Linked DNA regions of Homo sapiens. The protein of the gene in region 2 interacts with the protein of the main gene of each other region in a biochemical or structural test. Each region holds a gene or a part of one and is shown on either strand. Other genes may lie near its edges.

Region 1 (7,018 bases), on a different chromosome or scaffold from region 2:
GGCCGCCAGGTCACGGTGCACAAAGTTCTTCTCCTCCAGGTACTTCATCCCCATGGACACCTGGTGCAGCAGCTCGGCCACATTGCTCACAGGGATCTCCTCCCTGGGGTGGCGGGGAAGGCGGGGTCAGCTGGGAGAAGACTAGCCAAGTTCCCAGGGGCAAAGCATGCTTCTCTGACCCAGCTGGGCATGAGCCAGGTGACCATGTGTTCAAAAACGCTTATTGAGCACCTGCTGTGTGCCAGGCGTGGGGCTGGGGACACAGCAGTGAACAAAACAGGCAAAACTCCTGCCTTCATCCAGTCTCAAGGCTTTAGGGATCACCCACACGCTACGACTCCCAAGTCTAGACCTATGCCTGCACCCTCGACGTGCTGAGGTCTCACAGGCATCTCAAAGATAATGTGGCCTGATTGTCCCCATCCCCATGTGCACACACATATGGCTCCTCCACTGTCCTCTCCAGCAGCTCCTCTTTCTCTCACACCCAATCCATCAGCAAACCCTGGCAGTTCTGGTGTCAGAATCTCTCCAGAATCCACCGCACTCCTCATCTCTGCCTCTGCCACCGGGAAGCAGCCGCAGCATCACTCACCTGGACCCCCAGGCAGGAATAGTCAGCTCCGCCCAGGCCCTCGCTCCCTCCTGTCTCCCACTGTCTTGTCCTCTCTGCCCCTGAGTCAGGTCCTCCCCCTCCTCTGCTCACAGCACCCCCTAGCTCCCACCCAACTCAGGGTAAAACTCCAAGTCCTCCTGGCAGCCCGCAAGGCCTGGCACGGTCTGCTCATCCCCTCCCTGCCCGCACCACACGAGGCACGGGACCACCTCAGGGCCTCTGCACAGGCGGTGCCCTTTGCCTGGAATGCCCTTCCCCACGTCTGGGCATGGCGGCCTCCCTCAGTTTGTTCAAACCTCCCTGCTCACTGCACCTCGCACCCCAACACTCCCAACCCCCTGGAGCTGCGGCAGGCTTGTGCCCACCACACTATCTTCCCACATGCTCTAGATTTCATCAGGATTGTTACTTACTGTCTCTCTTCTCCAACCAGAATACAGAGCATGGATCTCTGCCTTGTTTATTCGCTAATGAATCCCAAGTGCTACTAACAGTTCCTGTCACTGAGAAACTGTCCAATAAACACCTGTCAAATGACTGAATGTGGGAGCCAGGGGCACACTGGGAAGGTGTGTGCACCAGCCAGAGGGCACAGATCAGCAAAAACGTGCCTTGGGGAGTGCAGAACTTGTGTCTGTGAGGGTAAGAGTTTGGGGATGAGGAACCACAAATGAAACTGCAAAACTTTTCAGTAAAGGGCCGGATAGTAAGGATTTTAGCCTTTACAGGCCACAAGTGATCTCTGTCACATCTTCGTTTTTGTTTCTTTAAAAAAAAAAAAATTAAAAATAGAAAACCACGCAGCACGTAAACAAAGGGCAGGTTCCAGATAACTGGCAATGGGCACTTTCCCAGGGGCCATGAATTTGGCCCAGGGAGTCTGGGGAGCAGCTGATGTGTACAAAGCTCTTACTAGCAGTGCCCTTTATTTATTTTTATTTATTTATTTTTTTGAGATGGAGTTTCGCTCTGTCCCCAGGCTGGAGTGCAGTGGCACAATCTCGGCTCACTGCAAGCTCCGCCTCGTGGGTTCAAGCGATTCTCCTGCCTCAGCCTCCTGAGTAGCTGGGAGGCGCCCACCACCACGCCCAGCTAATCTTTTGTATTTTTAGTAAGGACGGGGTTTCACCATGTTGGCCAGGATGGTCTGGATCTCTTGACCTCATGATCCACCCGCCTTGGCCTCCCAAAGTGCTGGAATTACAGGCATGAGCCACCGCACCCGGCCCTAGCAGTGCCCTTTATAGGTGCCGACTCATTCGATCCTCGCAAAGGCCCTGGAGGTAGACACTGTTATTACCGCACTGGTGCAATGGTGGACTGAGGGTTAGCTCTGCTTTGCAGGCATGGGTATGGGTGTGGGTGTGCAGGCTGAGAGTGTGTCCACGATGGTGTGGAAGTGCCCCGGCTTCCCACACACGCATGCACGCGGGTGCATGTCCACCATGCCCAGGATGGGCCCCGGCCCCACCCACCCGATGGCCGGGCCCACCCGGTGCTCACCTCTTGCCGACCAGGAACTTGTGCAGCGGCCCGCCCCCAGCCATCTCCATGACCAGCATGAGGGCCTCGGCCTGGCAGACGCCAATGAGCCGCACGATGTAGGGGTTGTCCAGCTGGTGCATGATCTGCGCCTCGCGCATCATCTCTTCCGTGTCTGCCTTCTCCGTGCCCTGCTTCAGCACCTTGATGGCCACGTCGATCTGCTTCCTGCCCGACCCGGCCACGGGAGGCACGTGGGCGAGGGGCACCGGCCCTGCTCGGCCCCACACCCCCACCCACCCATCTCTCTTCTCCCTTGAGTTGTGTGGTAGACAACTGTAGTCGCCACCCAGGCTGGGACCAAGGCGCTCAATGTCCCTGCAGCCTGGAGCGTCTGCTGAGGACGGCTCACAGCCGGATCGCTCACCGGGAACAGCCCATCGCCAAAAAGAATCCAAAGTGACACCCTCCCCAGGGGCAGCCTGTCAGGGGCCAGTGGACTCAGGGATCGGGGACCCCACTGCAGCTCCCCTGGGTTGGGAACTTCAGCTCCACAGCCTCCCCCTGCCCAGGCCCCATCCCACCCCCGTCAGGTGTCCCGAGCTCTCTCAGGGAATCCTCCAGCGTGCAACGTCCTGCCCCAGAGTCTGTTTCCCAGGCAAACTGCTGTGAGACAGACATCCCGGCTCCCGTCCCACAGCCCGGTGAAGCCACTCCCCTCTGCCCCAGGCGGCGGTGCTCCCACCACGGCAGGGGCGGCCATACTTGCGCATGCGGTACACGCCCTGGCGCACTGAGCCAAAGTTGCCGCAGCCAAGTTCAATGTCAGCTATGAGGAGGTTATCGCGCTTCAGGAAGAGCTTCTTGTCCTTGAGCTCCTCTGGGTCGCTGTAGGGGCTCTCATACACGCTCGTGTCCATGGGCATCGGCCGCGGTTTGTCTGGGGACGTTATGCGTGCTGGGCACACACAGCGGTACACTCCCAGGTCAGGGGCAGGGGTGTGGGGAGCAAGGCAGCCTCAGCCCCCACAAGCACCTGCCCCAGACAAGGGTGCCGTCCCTGGAGCATGCACAAGCAGGTGGGTGCCCATGCGTGTTCCTGCACATCCACACGCACACACTGGCATACACTCCTGGCCACAGCTGTGGGTGCCCCATGAAGCCACATGAGGGTGGACTCTAGGGGCGTGTGCATTGGTATCCACGTGGCACCGTTACTGTGCCAGCTGGGGTGTGCATGTGTGTGCATTCGTACGTGTACGCCTATGGCCGGGCCCGTCCCTGTCTGCGTATGCAGCACACAGCCACATTTACGAGGCCTCCAAAAGCGAGCCTCTAGGTGCACATGTAACTATGTGTCTTCTCTGTGCATACACATGTTCAGGTCTGGGCCCACCCATGAGAAACAGGAGCACCCGCAGCAGACCATTTTAGGAATGTGAGCTCTGGGGCCCATCGTGGGTTCACATCCCGCCTCTACCACTGCCTCACATCCCCATAGACAGACCCCTCCCTCTCTCATCTGTAAAGTGAGGTTAATCACCATAGCCACTTCATAAGGCATGTCAGGAGGGTTCGGTGGCTCATACACACAGTGACCTCGGAACGTGACTGACACATAGTAGGTACTCAACAAACGTGTGTCTGGGGAGCCTCAGGCAAGGCCAAGTGTGCTCCCTGCACGTCAGTACACACTGGGACGTACATGTGCACAGGCAGGTGTGATGGGTGTGGGCACATGTGTGCACAGGTGTTAACCAAGCCAACTGCCACAGCCTGGCCCGGCCCACAGCGCCCCCCGTGAAACCCCACAGCCCTGACAGCGACCCTGATCTCGGCTCAGCATGAGCCCCAACCCGCGTCCCCACCTCTGCCCGCTCACCTGGCTCAGGGGTGTATCCATCTGAGTTGAGGGTGTCGATTCGTCTCTGAGGCTAAAGGCCACAGGGTCAGCAAGGCCTGAGCTGGGGACGTCCAGCCCCTCTCATGAGACCTATATCCACTGAGGACTCCCAGAGACAGTGGAGAGAGAGCTTCTTCCGCTCCACAGGCACCCCAGCCTCCATCCCAGCCTCCCCCACAGCCACTCCCCAGCTCCATCCCCAAGGCCACACTCCAGGTGCCCCCAACTCACATGAGTCAACGTGGATGGGTGGGCTGGGAGTGTGGGAGCAGCAGCCCCTGGGGGAGCAGAAGGGACAGTGAGGGCTGGGGGCCAGGTCTCCTGCCGCCCCCGCCCACCGCCCGCCCGCCTGCTGCCGTCACCTGAGGCGTTGCTGGCACTGCTGTTGGGGCAGGCCTCCTTCAGGCAGTAGATGAGCCCGTCCGCCTTCAGCTTCAGATACTCCACCAGCTGCAGGGAGCAGGCAGCTAGCAGAGAGGCTCCTCTCCTCCCCAGAGCCCGGCACCCCATCTGAGCACGGCATCTCCCAGAACAAGTTGCACGGGCAGCCTACCTGCCAGAGCGTGTCAAACTTGGTGCCCTCGGGAATGCAGTACTTGCCCGCCTTGTCTTGGCTGATGAGGTAGTGGTACACCGTCTTCCCATAGATGAGGGACAGGGCGTATGTGCCCTGCTCCTTCCGCGGCCTCAGCCTGGCAGGGGAAGGGAGGGGATGTAACCCCTAGAGCCACCTGGGGGCCTCCTGCTGTGCCCCGGTTCCCCCGCAACACACCCTATGGGCTCCACACCTCAGAGCCTTGCAGAGAAGCTGCAGGGACTGGGGAAGCCAGGCCAGGCCCCCATCACCTCCAGATCTGCTGATGATGGGCCAAGTGGCAGAGGGCGGTGGAGGGGCCATGGCTGTGTTCCCAGGAAAATGCACTGTTCTCCAAGAGCCAACAGATGGCCATTCACGGGGAATACCTGACCCCCCACGGTGGACACCCAGCCACGGAGGAGGGGACACCCATCCACTGGGGAACACCTGGTCCCCCATGGCTGAACAGTTGGCCATCCACGGCCAGACACTTGCCATCCACAGAGAGATAGTCATCCACAGGCACTCATTGGGGGTACACTCGGCCATACAGTCAGCCAACCATGGGGGGCACTTGGCCTTCTACAACAGACCCAGAGCCTTCAACAGGTAGACCTAGCACCATTCTCCTGGGGAGAGAAAGCCTTTTCCACACAGACCCACACAGGTAGGCGCAGCTCCATGACAAGCTTACAGGGCACCCCTGTGCAAATCAAAACAAGTCACTTTCTCATCACGAGACTGACCAGTTCCATAATAGATGGACCTTTCCTAGAATGAGACCCTCGATTGCCTTCTGCTGGAATTTTGTCAATATAAATATATAAATCTTCCATGTCTATGATGGGAATTGAGCCCCTCAAAGGTGGTGCATTTGTGGGGTAAGAAACTGTCCCCCCATCCGCTCCAGCCCTGAGTACACACATCCCCCCTCAACACAGACCAACTTAGTGTCAGACACCGGCACCCTCGCATGAAGCCCCACAGTGACACCAGTCAGCATCCCCCACACAACAGTTTTGTCTGGGGTCACTGGCACAAGCCTCTATTGCAGGGTCAAGTGTAGCTTTACAGTGAGGAGGGAGGGCAGCTGGCCCCGTGGAAGCTGTGGAGGCCGGAAGCAGCCGACTCCTGATCTCAGGGATTGCACTGCACTACAGAAGAGCCCTTGTGATGGCCTGCGAGCTGCACCCTCCAAGGTGCAAATTCTCAGACCAGGCCTGGCCCTGCCTGTGGATGTTCATTCACTGGACAAGTCTTTACTGACAGGCCAGGCACTGTTCTCAGCGCAGGGATATGGCAGTGAGCAAGGCAGCCATGGGCCCACCTTGCAATAAGGCCCTTCCTTAGGAAATGTCCCCTGAGTGAGGGAGAGAGGTGCAGCTGTGACCATCCTCTCCATTCCTGGACAGCACGTTCCCCGAAGTACAGTGCAGTGAAGGGTGGGGCAGTTCCCAGGCTAGCCCACAACAGTCTGGAGATAACATGGAGAGATGGGAAATCAGGGCGGGGGCAATGAGGGCACACAAAAGGGCAAGGAAGAGAACCCACCACAAATTAGGAAACAAACATCCCACAGAGACAGTAGGCTGGGACAGCAGATGCAGCGCCGTCACGTGAAACCCCGCAGTGACACCAGTCAACATCTCCCACAAAACATTTCTATTTTGAGTCACTGGCACAAGCTCCTGTTAAGTGCAGCTTTCCAGTGAGGAGGGAGGGCTATTGGCCCTGGGGGTCTCAGAGCTGTGGAAGTCAGAGGCAGGTGGCAGGCTGGCCTGGAGGTGATGGTCTCCAGGGACTGTGAGAAGTGAAAACACCTCCTAAGGGTCACAACCTGAAGTTTTAAACTGACAACAGAGACTCCATGCCAAGCCACTCACCAGCAAACAGCAAACCTCCCATCTCCCCTCCTCTGTCTCTTTTTTTTTTTTTTTTTTTTTGAGACCGAGTCTCGCTCCACAGCCCGGGCTGGAGTGCAGTGGCGTGATCTCGGCTCACTGCAAGCTCTGCCTCCTGGGTCCATGCCATTCTCCTGCCTCAGCCTCCCAAGTAGCTGGGACTGCAGGTGCACACCACCACGCCCAGCTAATTTTTTGTATTTTTAGTAGAGATGGGGTTTCACTGTGTTAGATAGGATGGTCTCAATCTTCTGACCTCGTGATCCACCTGCCTCGGCCTCCCAAAGTGCTGGGATTACAGGCGTGAGCCACCAAGTCTGTCTGTCTCTTTCATTCTTTCTTCTAGAACTAATAATTTCCTCCTTATTTGTTTATTTAAACTTCCATGTGGAATACTGGGGGAAAACAGCCACAATATTAGGGAGCTCTTCCCATCAATAGGTGGGGCCTCCTCCTCTGTCTTCTGAATCAGGGCTTGACCATGTGCCTTGCTAACAGGACATTAGCAAACATGACACAAGCAGAGGCTTGAAAAATGG
Region 2 (7,991 bases):
ATAATCCCAGCACTTTGGGAGGCTGAGGTGGGCGGATCACCTGAGGTCAGGAGTTCTAGGCCAGCTTGACCAACATGGTGAAACCCTGTCTCTACTAAAAATACATAATTAGCCAGGCATGGTGACGCATGCCTGTAATCTCAGCTACTCGGGAGGCTGAGGCAGGAGAATCGCTTGAACCCGGGAGGCAGAGGTTGCAGTGAGCAGAGATCGTGCCATTGCACACACAAAATTTTTTTTTTTTGTAGAGATGGGGTCTTTGTATGTTGCCCAGGTTGGTTTTGAACTCCTGGCCTCAAGCAATCCTCTTGCCTTGGCCTCCTAAAGTGCTGGGCTTACGGGTGTGAGCCATGCGCCTGGCTCCAAATACCCCTTTTTTGGGGCAGCTCTCATTCTGCTGAGCCTGCAGGAGACTGGCTGCCCTCACCTGGAAGCCATGTGCTAGACAGAATTCTTGCGTGCAGGTGACAGAAGCCCATTGTAAAACTGTAAGCCCCCTAGAGGCCGGGTGCGGTGGCTCACACCTGTAATTCCAGCACTTTGGGAGGCCAAGGTGGGTGGATCACAAGGTCAGGAGATTGAGACCACCCTGGCTAACACAGTGAAATCCCGTCTCTACTAAAAATACAAAAAAAAATTAGCTGGGCGTGGTGGCAGGTGCCTGTAGTCCCAGCTACTCAGGAGGCCGAGGCAGGAGAATGGCGTGAACCCAGTAGGCGGAGGTTGCAGTGAGCCGAGATCGCACCACTGCACTCCAGCCTGGGTGACAGAGTGAGACTCTGTCTCGAAAACAAACAAACAAACAAACAAACAAACCGTAAGCCCCCTAAAGGGGCTGTCTTGGCTTTCTTCCTGAAAGTCCCAGGTGAGCTTCAGTCAGGTAAAGCTGGATCCAGGGCTCCCACACTGCCCTTCTCTTCTGAGCTTTACTTTCCTTTGTGTTAACATCATTCTTAAGGACGTGAGAACTCCAGATGATTACCTTTCCATTTAGCAACATTGGCACCTTGGACCCTGGGGCCGTGTTTCCAGGATAGCGTCTGACTAGATGAACATGCATCACGTGCCCTCTGCGGAATCCGTCACCGAGGCTGGGGTGGTTAACAGTCCTCTTGTTGGCCAAGCCTGGGATCCTATTTAAACCAAGTGGATTGAGAGAAGTAGGGGTACTGGTTTCCCAAAAGAAAATTACCAAAGAGGAGACAAAGCTAGGCTTGCAAAAATAGGGTGGCCCCTAGTGGCAGCCCCCTTCCCCCAGATTGCAGGTTCGGCTTCTTGGAGCAGGCACTTAACTGGGTATTTTAGGTCTCAGGCTGGAGTTATCTGTACCCCACACTCTCCTCCAGCCCAGGGCTTGAGTGTGTCTCTCCCTGTGCCTATCCTGAAGCCCTCTGTCTCCCAGGTGACACCGGGTCTAGGAGTGGTGGCCGTTCTGCTGCTGTTCCTGGTAGTGCGGGAGCCGCCAAGGGGAGCCGTGGAGCGCCACTCAGATTTGCCACCCCTGAACCCCACCTCGTGGTGGGCAGATCTGAGGGCTCTGGCAAGAAAGTGAGTTTATTCCCACCCTAGACCACCATCTGAGGCCCCCTGGCGTCTGGTTTGAGGTTTAAGTGGGGATGTTCCTGTTCCTGGCCACACCCCAAGGCCAGTAATTCGGTCGATACTGTCCCCTTGTGGCAGCTGCTTGAATTACAGGCCCAGATCCTGGGAGCCAGAACCACCTCTGCACGGTGTTGTGACCTTACTAAAATAAGCCAGGAAGGGAGAAGAGAGGTCCCCTCCTGCCTCGACACCTCCGTGGGGTCTTACTCTCTCCCTCCCAACTATCTGCAGTCCTAGTTTCGTCCTGTCTTCCCTGGGCTTCACTGCTGTGGCCTTTGTCACGGGCTCCCTGGCTCTGTGGGCTCCGGCATTCCTGCTGCGTTCCCGCGTGGTCCTTGGGGAGACCCCACCCTGCCTTCCCGGAGACTCCTGCTCTTCCTCTGACAGGTGCCCAGATGGGGCTATGCTGGGGGGCCTGCGGGTGGCAGGGCTGGAGTGAAGAGCATCTGTGGCTCAGACCCAGGCAGGGAGTTTGACTCCTGACTTCACAAGCTGCCTGCTCTCCTGGAATCTCCGTTTCCTGGTCTGGGAAATAAGTGATGGGATGATGTCTGCCACTCAGGGCTGTGCCAACCATGGGGTGCTGTGTCTGTAGGGACCTTGGTTGTGAGGGTGGCTAGGATGGACAGCGTAGGGGCCTTGGCAGGCACAGGGACAAACCCCCCATTCCCTTCCCTCACCCCTAGTCTCATCTTTGGACTCATCACCTGCCTGACCGGAGTCCTGGGTGTGGGCCTGGGTGTGGAGATCAGCCGCCGGCTCCGCCACTCCAACCCCCGGGCTGATCCCCTGGTCTGTGCCACTGGCCTCCTGGGCTCTGCACCCTTCCTCTTCCTGTCCCTTGCCTGCGCCCGTGGTAGCATCGTGGCCACTTATGTGAGTAGCCAGCAGGTGTCAAGGGGGATGGCGTGGGTCCAGGGTGGAGGAGCAGTCAGCGTAATGGCCACTCGAGGTGGAATGCCTGGTTTTGAATCACAGCTCTGGCTCTTCCCAGCTGTGTGACATTGGACAAGTGACTTAACCTCTCTGTGCTCAGTTTCATCATGTGTAAAATGGGGATATTAGTAGCACCTGTCTCACTGGGGTGTGATGAGGATTAAATTAGTTAATAGATGAGCTGGGAACATGGTCAACTTTCCATGTGTTAGCCCTTACTGTCATGAACCCCCGACCCTCTCTTCCCCCAGATTTTCATCTTCATTGGAGAGACCCTCCTGTCCATGAACTGGGCCATCGTGGCCGACATTCTGCTGGTGAGTTGCTGGGCAGCTCCAGGGTCAGCGCAGAGGCTGATGAGAGCAGAGTTGGGGTCAGGAGTGTTGCCTCTACCCCTCAAAGCCCAGCCTCAACCTACCTTCTGCAATAAATAACATCTGTAGCAGACCCCCGGCCTGCCCTGCGACCTCAACCCCAGGCACACCTCTGACCCCGGCCTAGGCGGATCCTTGGTGGTCTCCTGGCCCCCTGCCTCCTGCCCCCTGGAGCCCAGAGCATCCACTGAGCTCCACCAACTCCTCCACAGTACGTGGTGATCCCTACCCGACGCTCCACCGCCGAGGCCTTCCAGATCGTGCTGTCCCACCTGCTGGGTGATGCTGGGAGCCCCTACCTCATTGGCCTGGTGAGCATTATTTCTTGGCTGGCATGGGGTGGCTGGTGTCCTGAGCCTGGGCTGGATCAGAAGGCCTGGCCCTAGTGAAGTGTCTGTGTCCTGCGTGCTGGGCACTTCTCACCTTCCATTGTCAACTGGAGGAGAAAGATTTTGTCTTTGAATATTTCTACCAGTAAGGCCAGGGACCTCACCCTGGTGGTCCAAACTCCTCCTTTCTTTTCTCTTTTCTTTTCTTCCTGAGACAAGACCTCACTCTGTTGCCCAGGCTGCAGTGTAGTGGCACGATCATGGCTCACTGCAGCCTCGACCTCCTGGGCTCAAGCGATCCTCCCACCTCAGCCTCCTGAGTAGCTGGGATGATAGGCATGAGCCACTGCATCTAGCTCAAACCTCCTTCCCTTTCCTGGGCTCCACTTGTCTTTCTCCCTGGAGCTCAGGGGCGTGCCCTCCCTGGTTCATCCATGAGGCTGACTCCCCTGGCTTTCCTGTCTCCTCTCCCTGCAGATCTCTGACCGCCTGCGCCGGAACTGGCCCCCCTCCTTCTTGTCCGAGTTCCGGGCTCTGCAGTTCTCGCTCATGCTCTGCGCGTTTGTTGGGGCACTGGGCGGCGCAGCCTTCCTGGGCACCGCCATCTTCATTGAGGCCGACCGCCGGCGGGCACAGCTGCACGTGCAGGGTCAGTTAGGAGCTGTGCCCGGCCCAGCTTCTTGATCTGCCTGTCTGTCTGTCCATCTGTCTGCCCACTCCTGTGCACCTGGCAGCTCAGTCCACAGCCCTCCCCTTGTTTGGCCTCCAGTCTGTCTGCATCCACCCCTGGGGTGGCTCTGTGGCTGCCCCATCCATTTCCCGCTGCCTGTTTGCCCTTCTCTGGCTTTGTCTGTCTGTCCATCCAGCTCACCCTGGCTCTGACCCTCCCCCCTCAGGCCTGCTGCACGAAGCAGGGTCCACAGACGACCGGATTGTGGTGCCCCAGCGGGGCCGCTCCACCCGCGTGCCCGTGGCCAGTGTGCTCATCTGAGAGGCTGCCGCTCACCTACCTGCACATCTGCCACAGCTGGCCCTGGGCCCACCCCACGAAGGGCCTGGGCCTAACCCCTTGGCCTGGCCCAGCTTCCAGAGGGACCCTGGGCCGTGTGCCAGCTCCCAGACACTACCTGGGTAGCTCAGGGGAGGAGGTGGGGGTCCAGGAGGGGGATCCCTCTCCACAGGGGCAGCCCCAAGGGCTCGGTGCTATTTGTAACGGAATAAAATTTGTAGCCAGACCCCAGGTGCCTGCTCTCGTCTTTCTCTGGGTGGCCTCTGATCTTGCACCCCGTCTTCACCCCAGGGCTCCTGAAGACTGTGGGTCATTCCTCAGGGCTCTGGGTGAGTCTCTGCCCTTCTGGGCTGGGCGACTGAGATGGGGGACTGCTCTTCTCCGAGTGAGCTGGCTGAGTGTGACCGTGAGTCACGCCCCTGCTTCCCTGGAGCCTGTCCCTTGCCTCACAGGCCTGGCTGAGGTGGGGGTGGGCACTGCCCTTTGTACCCCAGAATTCCCACTGTCAGGGCCTCCCTGCTCGCTGCCTCCCCGGGTCCTGGATATGGAGGCCACGGCTGCCAGCTGGCAGGTGGCTGTCCCCGTCTTGGGGGGGGCCAGCAGACCCTTGGTGAGTGCCTGGGGTGGCTCCCGGGCCTCCTCCTGCCCCCTCCCCACTGGCGGGTGGGGTGGGAAGGGGGCGGGTGCAGCCGGCTGAGAGCTTGATGATTTCCTGCCCTCGCCCGGCGCTCACCACAGCTTCCTGCCGCAGGCGGGCGGGAGGGCGGGCACGGAGAGGCGGGCGCCGAGGAGGGGCAGGTAGGGCTGGGACGCAGGGGTAACTGGATCCCCCGACTTCAGCCCAGGCCCTGGTCTGACCACCCTGGGAGCAGGGACTTTCCACAGTCAGCTGGACGCACACTCAGCCCAGTAAAAGAGGGGACCCATCCCGGGAGCCCCGGGGAGGGCACAGCTGCCTCCTCCCGGGCTCCCCTGCCACCTGGTGCCTACCTGCCCCCTGCTCCCTGCCGGGTCCGGTCCTCACCCCATCTTCATCTGGCCTTGACTCTGCCCTTGAGGGGCCTAGGGGTGCAGCCAGCCTGCTCCGAGCTCCCCTGCAGATGGAGGAGGCCATCCTGGTCCCCTGCGTGCTGGGGCTCCTGCTGCTGCCCATCCTGGCCATGTTGATGGCACTGTGTGTGCACTGCCACAGACTGCCAGGTGAGTGGGAAACTGGTGGGGGTACCCAGGGCCCAGGGACACCGACGGGATCCTCATCCACTCCCAGCCCCTGTGTCTGTCCTGGCTCTGTCCCTGCCTCCGTCCTGATCCCAGCGCCTCTGAGAGTCCCTGGATCCCAGCACCTTCTGCCCTAAGCACCCCCTGTTCCTGCCTCACCAGCCCTCTCTTTCCCAGGCTCCTACGACAGCACATCCTCAGATAGGTGAGTCCGCCCCAGCCGCCCTGGGTCTCCCTCCACACCCCATGGCGGGGCAGGGCTGGGGCTTCCATCCTCCATCTTCCAGCCCCATCCCCAAGCTGTGTCTCCTTTACCAGTTTGTATCCAAGGGGCATCCAGTTCAAACGGCCTCGTGAGTACAAGGAGGGTCCCCTACCTTGGGTGCCAGGGAGAGGGTCCCCTGGTGTGGGAGTGAGCGTGAACCTTCAGACTTCCCCTGCCACCTTGGGGCTGCCCACATGGCCTTGACCTGAGCTGGGAGAGGGGAGATGGCTCCCCCAGGCCTGTCCAGGGTGTGGGGCTTTCAGGGGCTTAGTCTGTTCTTTGAGGCCTTGACGATGTCCGGAGTCCTTCTTTCAACTTGGTTCTGTGTCCTCAGACACGGTTGCCCCCTGGCCACCTGCCTACCCACCTGTCACCTCCTACCCACCCCTGAGCCAGCCAGACCTGCTCCCCATCCCGTGAGTAGCTGCTCAGCCCCTGCCCCTCCAAAGCTCAGCCCCTCCCCCTCCAAACTCCACTCTCTACCCCTTCACTTTTTTGGATTGGGGGCCCCTTTCCCTTTTGCAACTGCTGTTGCCCCCTGAGCCCCACCTCAGGCATGACCCCTGACCTTTGACTCCCAGAAGATCCCCGCAGCCCCTTGGGGGCTCCCACCGGACGCCATCTTCCCGGCGGGATTCTGATGGTGGTAAGTGTGGGGAAGGGTTCAGGCGGCGGGGGCTGGGAAGAAGATAGGCCTGGCCTGAGCTGACTTAGTCTCCCTCTCACCCTCTCTTTGAAGCCAACAGTGTGGCGAGCTACGAGAACGAGGGTGCGTCTGGGATCCGAGGTGCCCAGGCTGGGTGGGGAGTCTGGGGTCCGTCCTGGACTAGGCTGACCCCTGTGTCGTTACCCCCAGAACCAGCCTGTGAGGATGCGGATGAGGATGAGGACGACTATCACAACCCAGGCTACCTGTGAGTGGCCAGGTGGGAGGTGGGAGGTGAGGGCTGAGGCTGTGCGTCCCCCCTTGCTCACCGGCCCTTTTCACTTCCTTTCAGGGTGGTGCTTCCTGACAGCACCCCGGCCACTAGCACTGCTGCCCCATCAGCTCCTGCACTCAGCACCCCTGGCATCCGAGACAGTGCCTTCTCCAGTGAGTCAGGCATTTGTTTTTATTTTTAAATTTTTTTAGGGATAGGCTGGAGTGCAGTGGTGCCATTGTAGCTCGCTGCAGCCTTGAACTCCTGGGCTCCAGTGATCCTCCCAAGTAGGCTACTCGGCCTCAGCCTCCCAAGTAGCTGAGACCACAGGCGCATGCCACCACACCTAGCTTATTTAAAAAATTTTTTTTGTAGAGATGGTCTCACTATGTTGCCCAGGCTGGCCTTAAACTCCTGGGCTCAAGTGATCCTCCCACCTCGGGCTCCCAAAGTGCTTGGGATTATAGGCGTGAGCCACCATGCCCGGCCCTGTTCTTCTGATTTTCTCAGCTTTCTCTCTCTTCTTTCCTATCTCTGTGTCCTTTCCTTTATCATCTGGGAGATTTCCTTGTCTGTATTCTTCAACCCTTCCACTGCAATTTTATTTCTCCTATCCAGAAGCTCTTTCTCGTTCTCTGGCTGTTCTTTTTTTATAGCCTCCTGTTCTTGTTTCATGGATGAAACATCTCTAAGGATGTTAATTAGAGGCTGTCTTGTGTGTCTGTGTGTGTCAGTTTTCTTCTGCTTCCTGCACTGCCCTGTTTCCTTTGAGCTGGTTTTCTCCCTTCCTCATGGTCTCATCCTGCCTGGTCACATCCTCTGGGCTTTCCTCAATGTCCGGGATTCTTTAGTTTTCTGTTGCTTTGCTCTCTCTGTATATACTTGTCCTGGGCTATCACTTCTATACCCTGGCTTTGTTTGCCATCCAGATTCCCAGTTTGCTCTCTCCTGAGCTCCAGACTGTATCCAAGTACTTCTTTTCTTTCATTCATTCATTCATTCATTCATTCAGCATTTACTATGTGCCTCTGCTGGGCTAATGCTGTGGATATAACAGTTAAGGAGGCAGACTGTCCTGATAAAATAGCTGGCTGGGCATGGTGGCTCACTCCTGTAATCCTAGCACTTTGGGAGGCCGAGGCGGGAGGATTGCTTGAGCCCAGGAGTTCAAGACCAGCCTGAGCAACATGGCGAAACCTCATCTTTAAAAAAAAAAAAAAAATTAGCCAAGCGTGGTGGCACATGCCTGTAGTCCCAGCTGCTCAGGAGGCTGAAATGGGCGGATCATCTGAACCCCGCAGGCGGAAGTTGCAGTGAGACGAGATCATGCCACTGCAC
Region 3 (7,018 bases), on a different chromosome or scaffold from region 2:
ATAGGAAGAAGCATTCACTAGAATAGCTGAAATCCTAGGGACAGGTTATTTGAAAAGATATTGAGACTGTGAAAGCAATGTGTGCTTTGGGGAAGTCAAGAAAATCCTCCTTTTTCGAGTCCCTAGTTGCTTTTAAGCCTGAGAAGTTACTGCCAAAGGAGAAAAGAAGTTACCACCAAATGCACACAGAAGTTCAGAAAGGAAAACAAAGGCTAGCCAAGACCTTGTGAATCACTCTAACCAGGAAACGGACAGAGGTATTAACTCACTAGGATGGGCATTCAGAGAAGCAATATAAAATTGCATTAAATGGGATTAAATGAGTTGATATTTGTAAAGCGCTTAGAACAGTGCCTGGTATATGCTGCCCTCAGGGTCCTACATAATTGTTTGTTAAATGAAACTAACAATACGGTATTTCTGATTTGTAAGGTTGTTGTAACATTAGGGAAAAAGGCCTTACTTCTTCCCCCACGTCCAGCCCGGCGGCAGGCCTGGTTCCCATGGTGTTGCAAGAATGTTGCTGTTTGGGTCTCTATCACCAGGCTGTAAATGACAGTTCAAAATCATGCAAAGTCAACAGTGGAGCTTATCTGGAGGGTAGATTGTCCAGTGGTGTGGCAACATGTGATAAGAAGGGGTGGCATTGTATCAGTAAAATGGAATATTTCAGCTTGATTACACAGAGAAAAAACGAGCGCCCTGGAAATGGACTAAATGGCTACCAGGCAAAAAGTGTTAGTCTGTGAACCAGAGACCTGCACTCCTAAAACTGGGAGGATCTGAGAATGCAGAGGCCACTTTGGAAAATGTGAAGGTCTAAAGCATCAATTATCTTTTAGCTGCCCCCACCCCACCAGCTATTTCTTGGAGCCAGATGAGCAGGGTCTGGGAACAACTGCCCGAGGGTAGGGTAGGGCCAGACGATCAGAGAGGAGGATGCATCTGCAGCATCTCTGTTCTTTCTCCCAGGGTCACCGGGGCAACAGCCTGGACCGGAGGTCCCAGGGAGGCCCACACCTCAGTGGGGCTGTGGGAGAAGAAATCCGACCTTCGATGAACCGGAAGCTGTCGGATCACCCCCCGACCCTTCCCCTGCAGCAGCACCAGCACCAGCCACAGCCTCCGCAATATGCCCCAGCGCCCCAGCAGCTGCAGCAGCCCCCACAGCAGCGATATCTGCAGCACCACCATTTCCACCAGGTATCTGGAAAGAAGGCAGTGGGCACAGTACGGTGGAAAGGAGAACCTGCCTCCCCTCCAGGCCTGGCCCAGCCTCTTGAGTTCTCAGAGAGTTCATGATGAAGACCCTGGACCCCCCCAAATGGCAGAAATAGGGAAACTGTTCTTGGCAAAGACATCTCTATGAATTAAATGGCTCCCACCTGAACACACACACACACACACACACTGTCTCACACACACACACACACTTAAACTCACACACACACACACTTCCCCTGAGGACCCAGTAAACAATTGCTTCATTTTCCTATCAGCACAATTCCAAATCTATTCATGCCCCTTAGCCCATCTGGCTGTCAGATCCACAAGAGAAAAAGGCTTAATACCCACAACAGAGCCTTGTTTATTACTTATTTATCTCCCTCCACCCTTGTTCCCGATGGGATTTCAGGCGGCTTACTGAGATGGACAATACGGCCAGATAACATCATTCCTGAATTCCTTAGCAGGGCACACAAAGTCCTTTGTGAGCTGCCAGAATCTATTTCCCCAGCCTCGTCCCTGCTGCCTCCCTGCCAACTCCCCGTGCAAACACACATTCCAGCAACCCCCCACGCTGCCTTAGTTACCCGAATGGTCCATTGCGTTTCCTCTCATGCCTTTGTGGCGTTTTATATGCTGATCTCTCTGCCTGATGAGCCCCTCCCTGGGCAGTCCTACCCCTCTAAGCTGGAGTTCAAGCATGACCTCCTCTGTGAAGCCTTCCTTGATTTCCCGGGCAGATACAGACATTTCTTCTCTCTGCTCACTTACCACTTAAATGTGCATGGTTCCCCCTCTAAATGGAAGCTCCATGAAGCCAGAGACCTTCTCTTTCCAGCTATATTTCCCTTGTGTCTGCTACTGGAAACATGGTAGGTGCCTGATAAATATTTCTTGACTGAATAAATAAAACCTGCCTTTGCCTTCTTTGCCTTCAGAATCTAAGGTGCCTTTAGACCTTAGGTCCTCCTCAACGTGGAGGGTTTATTGTCATTATCAGTAAGTATTCCTGGAATATACCGGCTCTGTGGATGGCATCTGAGCAAGGCACTGGGGGAACCGGTGGGAGATGTCCTGGCAGTGGGGTGACCAGTCTTCTGTTGTATGTTTCTAGGAACGCCGAGGAGGCAGCCTTGACATAAATGATGGGCATTGTGGCACCGGCTTGGGCAGTGAAATGAATGCGGCCCTCATGCATCGGAGACACACAGACCCAGTGCAGCTCCAGGCGGCAGGGGTATGGGAACTGTCCTTCTCTGGGATCCCTGGGGAAAGGCCTTGGGACAGAGGTCAATGGAGGAGATGAGGCAGGAGAGACTCAAACCACACAGATCTGGCTGGGCACGGTGGCTCACACCTGTAATCCCAACACTTTGGGAGGCCAAGGCAGGTGGATCACCTGAGGTCAGGAGTTCGAGACCAGCCTGGCCAACATGGTGAAACCTCACGTCTACTAAAAATACAAAAATTAGCCAGGCATGGTGGCAGATGCCAGTAATCCCAGCTACTTGGGAGGCTGAGGCAGGAGAATTGCTTGAACCCAGGAGGCAGAGGTTGCAGTGAGCCGAGATTGCGCCATTTTACTCCATCCTGGGCAACAAGAGCGAAACTCCGTCTCAAAAAACAAAACAAAACAAAACAAAAATGCACACACAGATCAACGAGAGGTGATGGAATGTTTGGGGAGGCCTGGGGCTGAGCCAGCACCGTCCAGTCTGTTGATCTCAGTCTGGTGCCAGGCCTTCCCTGTTCTCATAGTTCTCAGTTCTAGTTCTTTATCATCTTTATCATAGTCCTTTACCATTGCCTTTATCATTGCATCTTTTTTTTGTTTTTTGAGACAGGGTCTCACTCTGTCTCCCAGGCTCAAGTGCAGTGGCACAATCATGGCTCACTGCAGATTCAAACTCCTAGGCTCAAGCGATCCTCCTGCCTCTGCTTCCCAAGTAGCTAGGTATATTATTTGTAGCGATAAGCTCTTGCTATATTGCCCAGGCTGGTCTGGAACTCCTGGGCTCAAGCAATCCTCCTACCTCAGCCTCCCACAGTGCTGGGATTACAGGCATGAGCCACCGTGCCTGGCCTGTGATCCATCTTGACTTGTGACTTGATTGCCCTAACACCAAGGGCTGTTGTTTGGGGCATGTTGCCCTTCTGTTTGTCACTCAAGATAAAAATACCACCTATTGATGTGGAGAGAGTGGTTCTCAGGGAGTCTATTGGGGCTTTGGACAATAACATCTGTTGGTAAAAGTCCTGGGTCTCCAGAGTGACGCTGGTGCGTTCTGGGAACTTCTTGCTCAGGCCTGTGCATAGGTATCTGATTTAAATTGCAGCAGGGTAGCCGGGCATGGTGGCTCACACCTGTAGTTCCAGCTACTTGGGAGGCCAAGGCAGGAGGACTTCTTGAGGCCAAGGGTTCAAAACCAGCCTGAGCAACATAGCAAGACCCCATCTCTACAAAAAAAGTTTTTTTAAGCTGCAGAGGGGTCAGCCTTCAGGGAATGTTGCTCTCAAAGACTTGGATGTGGTGGGAGGAGCCAGCAGACCCTCCCCTGCCTGCCCAGCCCACAGCTCAGCAGAGCCTCTTCTGTGCTTCCCCCAACAGCGAGTGCGGTGGGCCCGGGCGCTGTATGACTTTGAGGCCCTGGAGGATGACGAGCTGGGGTTCCACAGCGGGGAGGTGGTGGAGGTCCTGGATAGCTCCAACCCATCCTGGTGGACCGGCCGCCTGCACAACAAGCTGGGCCTCTTCCCTGCCAACTACGTGGCACCCATGACCCGATAAACTCTTCAGGGGACAGAAGCTTTTTGTCTGGAGCTGCCCACAAGAAAGAGGGCAAGGAAAAAAGGCTGGACTCCATGACTATATATACATACATCTATCTACATCTGCCTGTGTACACACACAACTTTTTATACTAGTAATTTATTGGCAATTGGGCTGGTAATTAGTTGATGCAAAAGGGAACTCAGGTGGAGAATAATATTGACACTTGCTTTTCTGCCCCCCTCAGGGGTGTGTGGAAGGCAGTGGGGGAGTTGGGAGGGGGGCAGGGAAATGAAATGGAGTTTTGTCCTGGCCTTCAGCTGTCACTGCTTCCTCCTTGTCTTGGGAATTTTCACGGAGAACAGCTAAGCAGAGACCACACCTCGGCACTGGACACAGAACAACAGGGTGGGGTTGAACTTGGTGGGGCACGTTCTAGCTGACCTGCAAGCCCCGCTCACCTGGAGGGCTTGCAGAGCAGCTCTCCTCCTGTTCTCCAAGGGGTGGGCACTGTTGCATTAGGAATTAAGGTGCAGCCCAGTGCTGCGGGCAGCCAAGCGAGTCTGAGCGGGGATGTGAAGGCAGGACGGGGTTGGAGAGACCCTGCCTGTGCAAGGCTGGCCTCCTAGTCAACACCTAGCTGAGACATTCATCTCTGTTCAAATTAATATTCCTTGGGTCTTTCAAATGAATGTTTCAATGTGAGGAGCGAAGTACTGGGAAATCGAGGGATTTTCCACAATCCCCAAGCAGCTTACTCAGTGGAACCTCTGTTTCCCCAGCTATGAAGGAAATAGCATCCTACATTCCGTAAAGTGCTTGAAGAAGCTCTAGCTGAGAATGCTGAATTTTACAGTCATTGTTTTATGGTTACAAGGGTATGTCTTCAGGGCTCTGTTCATTTTCCCTCTTGATTTTCTCTTTTGAAGATGCCTTGCCCAGTGGCATGGAAAGAAGCCCACTTGATGATAGGAGCCTGACTATGAATTGATTGACTAAACATGACCCCAGGTGGAAGCTGGCTTTGACACCAGCTTCCTGTTCAGTCTGACCACTGCTGTCCTCCTGCTGCCCAAGAGTTGCACCTGGAGCAAGGAACCCCACCATGGCTGTCGCTCTCCATCCCATCACGCTAGAATCATGTGTCCAAGGGCTCACTCTGGAGGTGCACAGCACAGGTCAGCCTGGCCAGGGGCGAAGGAGACAGTAGAGAGGAAGCTCAGGGCCTTAGGGGAGGCCGGGTGCAAACCCGTTCTGCACCAAGTGCACTCGGAGTTTGTGGGTATGGGTGTGTACCCCTGCAGGTGTGCACATGTGTGCTTGCACGCACATATTTGTGCACTCCTGTGTGTATACATGTGTGCTTGTGTATGCATATGTGTGCATTCCTGCATGTGTGGACATGTGCGTGCATGCATCTGTGTGTCTGTGTGTGTGCTGAGACAGGAAAGGGGGTGAAAGTGTTGGTGAGGGAGCCTGGAAGTTTTCTCTTCCCCAACCTCTCTTGCTCTAAGGAGGGATGGGGTTGGGGGCAGCCGTTATTGAAGGTGATCGGAGAAGAAAGATTTTCTGACTCAGAAGTGACTGCCAGTGTAGCACAAGCAGTGTCCCTTGTGACTGTGATTCTACAGTTCTCTGATCCTCATGTTTCCTTTAGAGGAAAGAGGAAAAAAGGAACTCTGTGGTGGGTATTGGGAGGGAAAAGAAAATAGCCTGGTGGAGGCAGGAGGGAGTCGAGTGTGAGTAAGGAGCACCTGCAGCTTTTGGAAGTGAAAGCAGAGAGAGGGAAAGGTAGCTAAGACATCCAGGAGGATCAAGGGGCAGCGTGAGAGGCACAGGGGGAGGAAAGGGAGAGGGTGAGTGGGGCCAGGGAAGAGAACGGTGTGGAGTTGGTGGGCAGATGGTGCAGGAGGAGGGCTGGGCAGTGGGGAGAGGAAGAATCAGAGCAGAGAAACCGCTGCTGCGGAAGGCAGGGAGCAAAGAAGCATAAGGAAAAGAACAGGAGAAAGAACAAAGGCAGAGAAGACCTCCTCAGCTATTTTGGTGCTAGGTAATGTGAAATGCTGCAGTAAATAAAAGCCATAAGTAATGTTTGATTTTACAGTATTTACAAACCATATGCTTTAAACAGCCCACAAACTCCATCCAGTTGTCTGATGATGTGGGAGGACCAGCTCTAGTTAGACGGAGGTATGTGATTCGATTCTGGTGGAGACTTTGTGCCTTGAAAGGCTTCTCAGGAAAGCAGTAATAAAACAAAGTGTCCTTGTTTGGCCAGGCCGTGTCTGGTGTCTGCGTTGCATACCCCTCAGGTAGAGAGTGAGAACGAGACCAGGGGGTGACAGGGGTCATCGGCCTGCAGGAGCTGACCCCGTAGGCAGGCGGTATGAGCAGAGCTTTCAGAACCCCTGGAGCTCGGTGTTCTGTTGTAGCAAAAGCTACTGAAGAGTATTTTGTACTGAGATGCCAAAGCATCTTTCCCTTGCTCATCAGCCTCCATTCAGAAGGAAGCGGGAAAGTCACCCAAACCACCTACAAGGAATGAGGGCTCTTAGCGGCCAGGTAAAGAGGACAAGAACCAAACTGTCCACATTATGGAGGGGAGGGGGAAAGAGAGCTCAACCCCCCTCAGCCTCTGGTGCTGCCAGGGGGAGCCCCTCCGCATGTGTCCCCACGGGCCCTAGTTTCTACCTGACAGCATTTCAGCACCAGAGGAGGGTTGAGCCAGCTCCTCTCACCAGCCACAGAACCAGCAGCCAACAAACACATTGTCCCCGAGTTTGGCTGCAACACTCTATGTGACTTGGGAACTTGAAGCTTCCAGAGAAAAGCCAGGTCCTGTTGGACCAGTTGTTGGGTTTTCCTAACCACTTGCTGTGCCTCACCGCATTTCAAATATCTGGCACCTGCCACTGCCCACCCACTTTTAGATGGCCCTAGGGTGATCTAACCATGGTGCTTCTCAAAATTTAAAGTGCCTACGAATTGCCTGGGGACCGTGTTGAAATGCAGCTTCCAACT
Region 4 (7,258 bases), on a different chromosome or scaffold from region 2:
TCCCAGGACATTACAACTCCTTTCCAGGCTAGTGCCAGACAACAGAGATCCTGGGAGTTGGCTGAGACTGTCATCAGGCCTGCATCTCAGTTTAGTTTTCCCTGTGCCCACTCCTGTTTCTTTCCAGTACCTCCCAGAGTGTTGATCCCAGGGCCACTCCCCAATAAACATACTGCACACTAACCTGTCACAGAGTCCACATCCAAAGAACCCAACCTGTGACAGCACCAAATCAAAAGAGACTCAGGAGGCTGAGGCAGGACTGCTTGAACTCGGGAGGCGGAGATTGCAGTGAGCCAAGATTGTGCCATTGCACGCCAGCCTGGGCGACGAGAGAGAAACTCTGTCTCAAAAAAAAAAAAAAAAAAAGAGAGAAAACATATCAGGTAGGGGTATTTTACAAAGGAGAGAGGATATACAATAAAGTGTTCATACATACATGGGAAGCAAAACAGCACTGACTCTGGGGCCAGACTACCTGGGTTTGAATCCTGCCTTTTAGCTCTGTGCCTCAGTTTTTTCATCTGGAAAATGGGGATAATAAGAGCACTTATAGGGCTGTAATGAGGAAGAAATGAGACAATGTGGATAAAGCAGTTCCATAGTGTTTACTATATGTCAACCACTGTTCTAAGTGGTCATTTAATAAACAGCTGTGAGGCCAAACCCACAGGTCCCGAGGGGCAGTTGGGCTGGGACTCTCCCCAGACTCTGGGCATGGGCACAGGTACAGTGTAGGCCAGGGCATGCTGAAGCATGCATGTTCACAGAAATAGGCCTGAGCAGGGCTAGCATGGGTGACGTCACAGGCGTGTGCTTGTGTGGGTGCTGGGCTGCTCCTCCCAGACAGCGCAGCTGCACGTATTGCCATTCACACCCACGCACCCATATATATGCTGAGCTGGGGGAAGCCCACACAGACCACACCCTCTGCATGCCCTGTTTTTCCTGCACCTCCTTTGGTGGAAGGAGGCACCTGAGGCCTGGGATGCTGGCCCAGAAGTCCCAGGAGGAAATGGGTCCTGTTCCCTGATTACAGGCCTGGCAACGGGCTGAAAACTCAAGCTCTTGTTGGCAGGGATTTCTTGAGCCCCTAGAGGTCCAGACCCAGAGGCAAAAGTAAAAGCAAGGAAGCCTTACCCTGCATGTTAGGAAGCTCCCAAAAAAATGGAGAAACGGATGTAAAAAGTGCATCAGAGCCCACAGGCTGCCGGAGTCAGCACAGTAAGCTCAATGAGGGCTGCAGCACTTAAGAGGGTGCCTCCTGTACAAAACAGGATCAGACAGCCAGAGAGGGGCCCCATTCAGCCCCCGTCTGCCTTCCTGGTCTCATCACTCCCTGTCCCCTCCTCAGTCAGGAAACTCTAGCTTTGTAACCCTAAATTCAACAACCTCTTCCTGGCCTCAGGGCCTTTGTACATGCTGTTACCTCTACTTGGAATGTACTTTTCTCCAACCCACCTTTAATAATTCACCTCGCCATCGACTCACTTCCTTTAGACCTCTGCTGAGGTCTGAAGAGATCTCGACCCAATGTTTTTCCTTCTAGCCCTCATCATAATTGTCTTTATGTAACAGAGTGTTTATTTAATGTCTGAACTCCCAGAGAGCTGGCGCTGTGTCTCTCTTGTGCTCCTCATGTTGTCAATGCCCAACACAGAGAAGAGCAGGGTCCACAGAACTTCAAGCCTAAGCCAGTTCAAGCCACACTCTGTGAGCACTCACGTTCTGCTGGATTCCCTGTGCCCAAGGCCAGCGGTGAGCATGCCTCCCCTCACCCATGCTGATTAACCAGATAGCCTCCATGCCCACTGACTACTGACCACCAGGACTTACCTAAGCCAGTGGATCTCCTGTGAGGCAGAAAACTCATGGAGTCAGGCCGACTTGGGTTCTAGTTCCCACCTAGTCATGTTATGTGGCTTTGGGGCAAATTGTAGAACTTCTCTGAATCTCTGTTTCCTCATCAGTAAATTGTGGACCATCATTCCTGATTAGAAGATAATTATGAGGATCAGGTGTGACCACAGGTGCACACCTTCAGCACAGGGTCTACGCTAGCTCCGTCCCGCCCACGTAAAGACCTGCCACTAGGTGGCAGTCCATCTCAGCTACCCCACCGCTCCTTACTCCACAGAGGCTGGCTAGGACAAAGGGTCTCAATGTCATGCTGAATTCTGAGCTTCTTAGGGGACGCACTTGAGGAAATCAACGTTAACACACAAGTTTCCACTACAGCAAGACAAAGTCAGAAGCAGCAGCCCCAGGTCACTATCCAGCTGAGTGGGTTGCCTGAGCACACGCTCTTACAAACTCTAGTCTAGTCCTACTATCTCACAATTCCCAGGAAGCCTGGCTCTTTCTCTGGCATCAGCTGGAAGCTCTGTTGGGCTTCTCACCTCTGAAATGCAGTAAGTTGTCCTGCTGTGCCTGGCAGCCGACCCACTGCCTGGCTCAACATGTCAGACAGGCTCCACCGCGACCGTGGGTGTCCTCAATTTTGGCGGTGCTGACAAGGGTAGATAGATTGCAGGGGTGAGTTTCAAGAATGGCTTCAGAAAGACAAAGAGTATGAATTATATTCCATAACCAGAAAAAGGCCTTGTGGCTGGAGAATGGAGAGTGAAGGATCACTTGTGAGAGATGAAACTGGTGAGATGGGCAGGTCATATAGAACCTGCTAGGCCAAGCAGGGAGTGTGGATTTTAGGTGCAATGGGAATTCACGGAGGGTTTTAGCCTGGATGTAGGGGATCATGATTTAATTTCATTTTAAAGATTTAAAGCATGATAAATCCAGGCAAAACCAAACTGATAGATCCAGGCAAAACCAAACAAGGTGAGTAGTCTGGGTGACAGGAGATGGGGCCTTCAGCTTGTGGGCTGAGTGACAAGGTCTTGATGGATTGGAGGTGAGGCAAAGGGAGGAATCAAAGTTAGCTGCAAGGTTTTTGACCTTCCAACTTAGAGAAGTTTAGCGCCGCGTTCTGAGAAAGTGAAGACTGTGGAAGGAATCGTTTGGGGAGGGAAGGCGAGCTGTCTAAGGGGGGGGGATGTGGAACATGCAGTGGGATGCTGGGGCCTGGAACGTAGGGGAGATGCAGGTTTGGAGTCACCGGTGCCTGTGTTGTTGGGCAAAGCCAGGGGAAAGGTCAGGTCGCCTTGGGATCTGGCCTAGCACTGAGTGCAGAGGAAGAGAAGCTTCTGAGATCGAGAGGCAGCGGCTACAGGAGGAGGAAGAAAGCAAGGCGGGGAAAACCAAAGTTCAGGAGAGCATTTGCAGGAGGGCGCTGCGGGGTAGGGTCTGAGTCGGAGCCCCGAATCGGACTCGAGTCCTGTCGCGTGGGGACGGAGCGTGCAGAGGCCCATGCGAGGGACAGACACAAAGGCCCTGGGAGCTGCAGGTCAGACCACTGGACAGCGCGGCCGCGGACCTAACGCCCCTGTAAGGGGTGCTCACGCTTGGGGGGAACTCTCCGAAAGAGAGGACCACTGAAAGCCACCCTGGCAGCAGGGGCGGAACAGACAGACGTGGGTCTGGCCGTCGCCAGAACTGCCTGCGGACCAGCCCCGCGCTGCCGGGGGGGCGGGACATGTCGGCTGTCCATCAGTGCCCGCGACCAATCCGCAGGCAGCCCCGCCCCCGCCCCTCCCGGGAGAGGGCGCGCGGAGGACCCGCCGCCGCCGGTGTGAGGCGGCCCGTCCTGGCTCCCTTGTCCGGGAAGCCCGCCCAGGTAACTGAGTTTGGCCGGGCATTCCCGGAGGACGCGCCATCCCCTCACGTCCCGTCCCGGTCGCTGCATGGGCGGTGTTCGGGACGCGGGGGCTGCGTCTGTGCGGGACCGCGGGGTAGCGGCCGCCCGTGCGAGTACGCCTGACTGACGCGCCGGCCGCCGGGCCTGCGGCCTGTGGGCGGGGCTGCCGTGCGTGACAGGGCCGCTCGTGGCCGCCGGGCTGTGTCCGGGGCCGCGTGAGAAAGCTCTGCGGGACTGAGGGCTGGGTGGGTCGACCGGGAACGGCGCGCGCTCCCGCCGCCATCGCGCCTCCGTCCCCGCCTGCGGCCTGTCTGGGGGTCGCGGGGCGCAGGCGCGGCGGGCCGACGGGCGGGGGTCCTCCCCACGGGTGCGCGGGCGCCTTTGTTCCCGGCGCCGAAGCGGGGTGGGGCCTCAGGGCAGCCCCGCCCCGCCGCGCTGAGGCCCCGCCCCGTGTCCGCCTGCAGGAGCCGCCGCCGGGTCCCGCTCGTCTGCCGCCTCAGCCTCAGCCCCAACCTCAGCCGCCGCCGTTGCGCTTGCTCCCGGGCGGTCCTGGCCTGTGCCGCCGCCGCCCCCAGCGTCGGAGCCATGGCGGGCGCCGCGTCCCCTTGCGCCAACGGCTGCGGGCCCGGCGCGCCCTCGGACGCCGAGGTGCTGCACCTCTGCCGCAGCCTCGAGGTGGGCACCGTCATGACTTTGTTCTACTCCAAGAAGTCGCAGCGACCCGAGCGGAAGACCTTCCAGGTCAAGCTGGAGACGCGCCAGATCACGTGGAGCCGGGGCGCCGACAAGATCGAGGGGGCCAGTAAGTGCGCCCACTTCCTGCCTGGGCCCGCCCCGCGCGGGGGTCGTGGGAGCCCGGCCCGACTGCTTGCACCCCGGCCGGCCGCCCCAGCGACTTGGGCAAACTTTCGGGCCCTCCCAGACTCCCTCCGGGCCCCGCCCCCGCTTCGTCTCGGGTGGTCACTGGGGGCGGGGGGCATCCGGGTCCTCGGTCACCTGACAGGACACCCCCCCTCCCCCAGCTGGGGGGAGTGTTCCAGGCGCTTTGCCCTGAGGCCTAAAAATCCTCGCGGGCTGGAGACCTGCGGTGCAGGCATCGGGCCCCCCAGACCCTGGGAGTGGTGGCGGCGTCGGCGAGGGGAGCTAAGGCAGTGGCCCCCACCCTGCACGGGAACCTGGGGCCTGACCAGACGGTCCCCGCCCACTCTTTATCCAGAAAGAGCAGTCTGTGAAACTCTCCGGGCCCCCAGGCTGGGCTCTTATTTGCAAAGGAATCTTTGGGTTCCCTAAGTAGAACTTAGGCAGATGTTGGGTAGGGCTGGTCTTGGAGCAGAGCTGGGCCTACTCATCTCCCTCTGGGGGAGAGGGAGGAAGGTGGTCTTGTTTGGTTTGGAGAAGCCTGAGAGAAGCCAGTGGCTGGAATTTTTTTTTTTTTTTTTCTGCTACTTTTGTCCCAAAGCTGGGTTTTGGAGGCCTATGTGGGTGGGCAGACACTCAATGCCAGGGCAGGGACTCCCCTTGCCCTGGGAAGCACGTTCCCAGGAGATGGGCCCCATAAAGGCCTGCCCCAGCGCCTTGGAGTCAGGTATTCTTCTCAGGAGTGCAGCTAGTTTGTGAGTCTAGCCCTTTGTCCTCTGTCCGGTGGCTTCAGGGAGCGGGAGCGGCTTCTCTTAGTTTCCTGCCTTTTCGCCTTCCCAGGCCTGAGCTTGGCTGCTTTTGCGCTGGTCTCTAGTGGGAGGAGGGAGTTGGGGGATTTTGAAAAACCCCAGATCTTTGAGAGTTGTTCCACTTAGCGCGTGCCTGTGCTGTGGTCGGATGGGCACTCTGCTCTGCCCTCCATTCCCCCGCCTCTCAGTGTGAAGAGATGGTGTGTCTGCAACTCTAGACTGGGTTGCTTCTTGCAGGGACCCCCGGAGACTAGGGTTAGAGAGACCCAGGCTCAGAACCAGGTCTGTGTGAAGGAGGGAGATCAGGAAGTGACACCCCAAGGGGGGGTCCCACAAACCTTCTTGGGTATGGTGTGCATGTGTGTAGATAGTTGAGGAGATTGGGAGGAAGGAAGGTCTTGTGGTGAGGCAGCCAACCATCCTCAGCTACAAACTCCAGATCTGACACAGATCTAATGCAGCTGCTCAACTTAGAAATGGCAGCCCCCTTCCTCAGTGCCCCCACTGACCCTGTCAGCCATTGGGAGAACATTTTAGTGACTTGAGAGCCTGTGGATTCCAAAGTAAAGGAAGAATCGACACTGCAAAGAGCTGAGATAACCCTGGGAACATCACTCAGGCATCAGGCTCCAGGCATGGTCCCCTTCCTTACTCCCTATGCTGTGTTGAGTTGGTGGCACTGGCTGGAAGTTCTCAGAGATCTCCTGGGTAACAGACTGCATTTTAAACCACGCATATTAGCAGGCAATAAATGTAGCACAGTGGTTGATGGCAAGTCTGGATTTGAAGCCCATATATTCATTGTGTGTTTCCCGGCCAGTTACTTACCTTCTCTGAGCCTTGATTTCCTCATGTGTAAAATGGGGGTAATAATATATCCAGTATATATGGTTGCTCCAGGATCAAATGAGACAATTCATATAAAACATCTAGCATTGTCTGACACATAAATGTTTAATAAATATGAGCTGTTATTAGCAATAACATTAACAATAGACCGTGGCTGCCCTTCAAGACCCTGAACTGGGAATGGTGAGGGGGTGAGGTGTGGCTATAGGTGAGGATGAAGGTGCAGGAAGGGAGGAGGACGGTGACCAAATTCACATTTCACTTAGATTGCTACTCAGAAAAAGGCAGGAAACAGTTTTGTTTTGCCCCAACCCATGTGCCCACTCACCCACCCACCATGTAGAACAGTGTTTCTGTAGAGAAAGTGTTTGCAGTTGTGCACATTTGACTCCTGGGTGTGACCTTTCTTGTTTGTAAGTTGGGGCCTGAACAGAAAAGAGGGGTGCAGAGAGGGGATGATTTATCATGCCTCATGTATTTGGGGGATGGAGGCAGGCATACAGAGGACCTGATAACCCCCTACCCAGGGGTGAGCAGGTGGGTCAGCCAGAGGTGTACAAATTCAGTGATCTCATCAGTTAGCTGGGATTTAACAGGCCTGGAGAGTAGGCAGAGGATGTAGGAGGACCCTGGCTTTTGGATTTTGGGGGCTCAGATTGAAAAGAGCCTGGATGAAAAGTCTGGTCGATGCTTGTGTGTTCAGACTTAACTAATGGAGGCTTCCACTGAAGCCGTGCCCTGCTTCTACCCATTCGTGGGCTCTCCTTGTTGGTGGGTTCTGATCCCTGCGGCCTCTGAGGAGGTTGGACTGCCAGCCGGGTTTTCTGCCACCTGGACTCTTGCCCAAGCACCTCAGGTATCTGGCCTTTCCTGCTGACCCTACCAGGGTACCAGCAGTGCCTGAAGCCTGGCCTAAGAGAGAGACACTGTGCTACCTTCAGGGTGTTGGTAGACCTGAGGGAGAGACAGTGTGGTTTAAGGAGCACTC

Evidence for each region.
Region 1: of the proteins of LAT (region 2) and ZAP70, one has a biochemical effect on the other in vitro, tested with the Homo sapiens proteins (2 studies listed by BioGRID).
Region 3: the proteins of LAT (region 2) and GRAP2 form a complex in vitro, tested with the Homo sapiens proteins (one study listed by BioGRID).
Region 4: the proteins of LAT (region 2) and PLCG1 form a complex in vitro, tested with the Homo sapiens proteins (2 studies listed by BioGRID and IntAct, with this or other methods).

The regions. Positions count from the first base shown.
Region 1 is NC_000002.12:97,730,558-97,737,575, reverse strand, and holds part of ZAP70 (tyrosine-protein kinase ZAP-70), read right to left. Parts: intron 4,694-7,018; coding exon 4,555-4,693; intron 4,452-4,554; coding exon 4,364-4,451; intron 4,280-4,363; coding exon 4,233-4,279; exon of another isoform or gene 4,033-4,232; coding exon 3,981-4,032; exon of another isoform or gene 3,057-3,980; coding exon 2,864-3,056; intron 2,327-2,863; coding exon 2,120-2,326; intron 104-2,119; coding exon 1-103. UniProt on the Homo sapiens protein: Tyrosine kinase that plays an essential role in regulation of the adaptive immune response. Regulates motility, adhesion and cytokine expression of mature T-cells, as well as thymocyte development.
Region 2 is NC_000016.10:28,980,068-28,988,058, forward strand, and holds the start of LAT (linker for activation of T-cells family member 1), read left to right. Parts: upstream 1-4,984; 5' UTR 4,985-5,308; coding exon of another isoform or gene 5,309-5,350; coding exon 5,351-5,450; intron 5,451-5,645; coding exon 5,646-5,673; intron 5,674-5,786; coding exon 5,787-5,821; intron 5,822-6,067; coding exon 6,068-6,149; intron 6,150-6,314; coding exon 6,315-6,379; intron 6,380-6,472; coding exon 6,473-6,502; coding exon of another isoform or gene 6,503-6,589; coding exon 6,590-6,647; intron 6,648-6,731; coding exon 6,732-6,826; intron 6,827-7,991. Other genes in the region: SPNS1 (protein spinster homolog 1), read left to right, coding at 1,403-1,548, 1,834-1,989, 2,289-2,478, 2,790-2,855, 3,125-3,223, 4,138-4,372, 4,542-4,612. UniProt on the Homo sapiens protein: Required for TCR (T-cell antigen receptor)- and pre-TCR-mediated signaling, both in mature T-cells and during their development.
Region 3 is NC_000022.11:39,967,070-39,974,087, forward strand, and holds the end of GRAP2 (GRB2-related adapter protein 2), read left to right. Parts: intron 1-972; coding exon 973-1,203; intron 1,204-2,341; coding exon 2,342-2,464; intron 2,465-3,835; coding exon 3,836-4,015; 3' UTR 4,016-6,652; downstream 6,653-7,018. UniProt on the Homo sapiens protein: Interacts with SLP-76 to regulate NF-AT activation. Binds to tyrosine-phosphorylated shc.
Region 4 is NC_000020.11:41,133,303-41,140,560, forward strand, and holds the start of PLCG1 (1-phosphatidylinositol 4,5-bisphosphate phosphodiesterase gamma-1), read left to right. Parts: upstream 1-4,240; 5' UTR 4,241-4,339; coding exon 4,340-4,556; exon of another isoform or gene 4,557-4,698; intron 4,699-7,258. Other genes in the region: translation initiation factor IF-2-like, read right to left, coding at 3,456-4,037. UniProt on the Homo sapiens protein: Mediates the production of the second messenger molecules diacylglycerol (DAG) and inositol 1,4,5-trisphosphate (IP3). Plays an important role in the regulation of intracellular signaling cascades.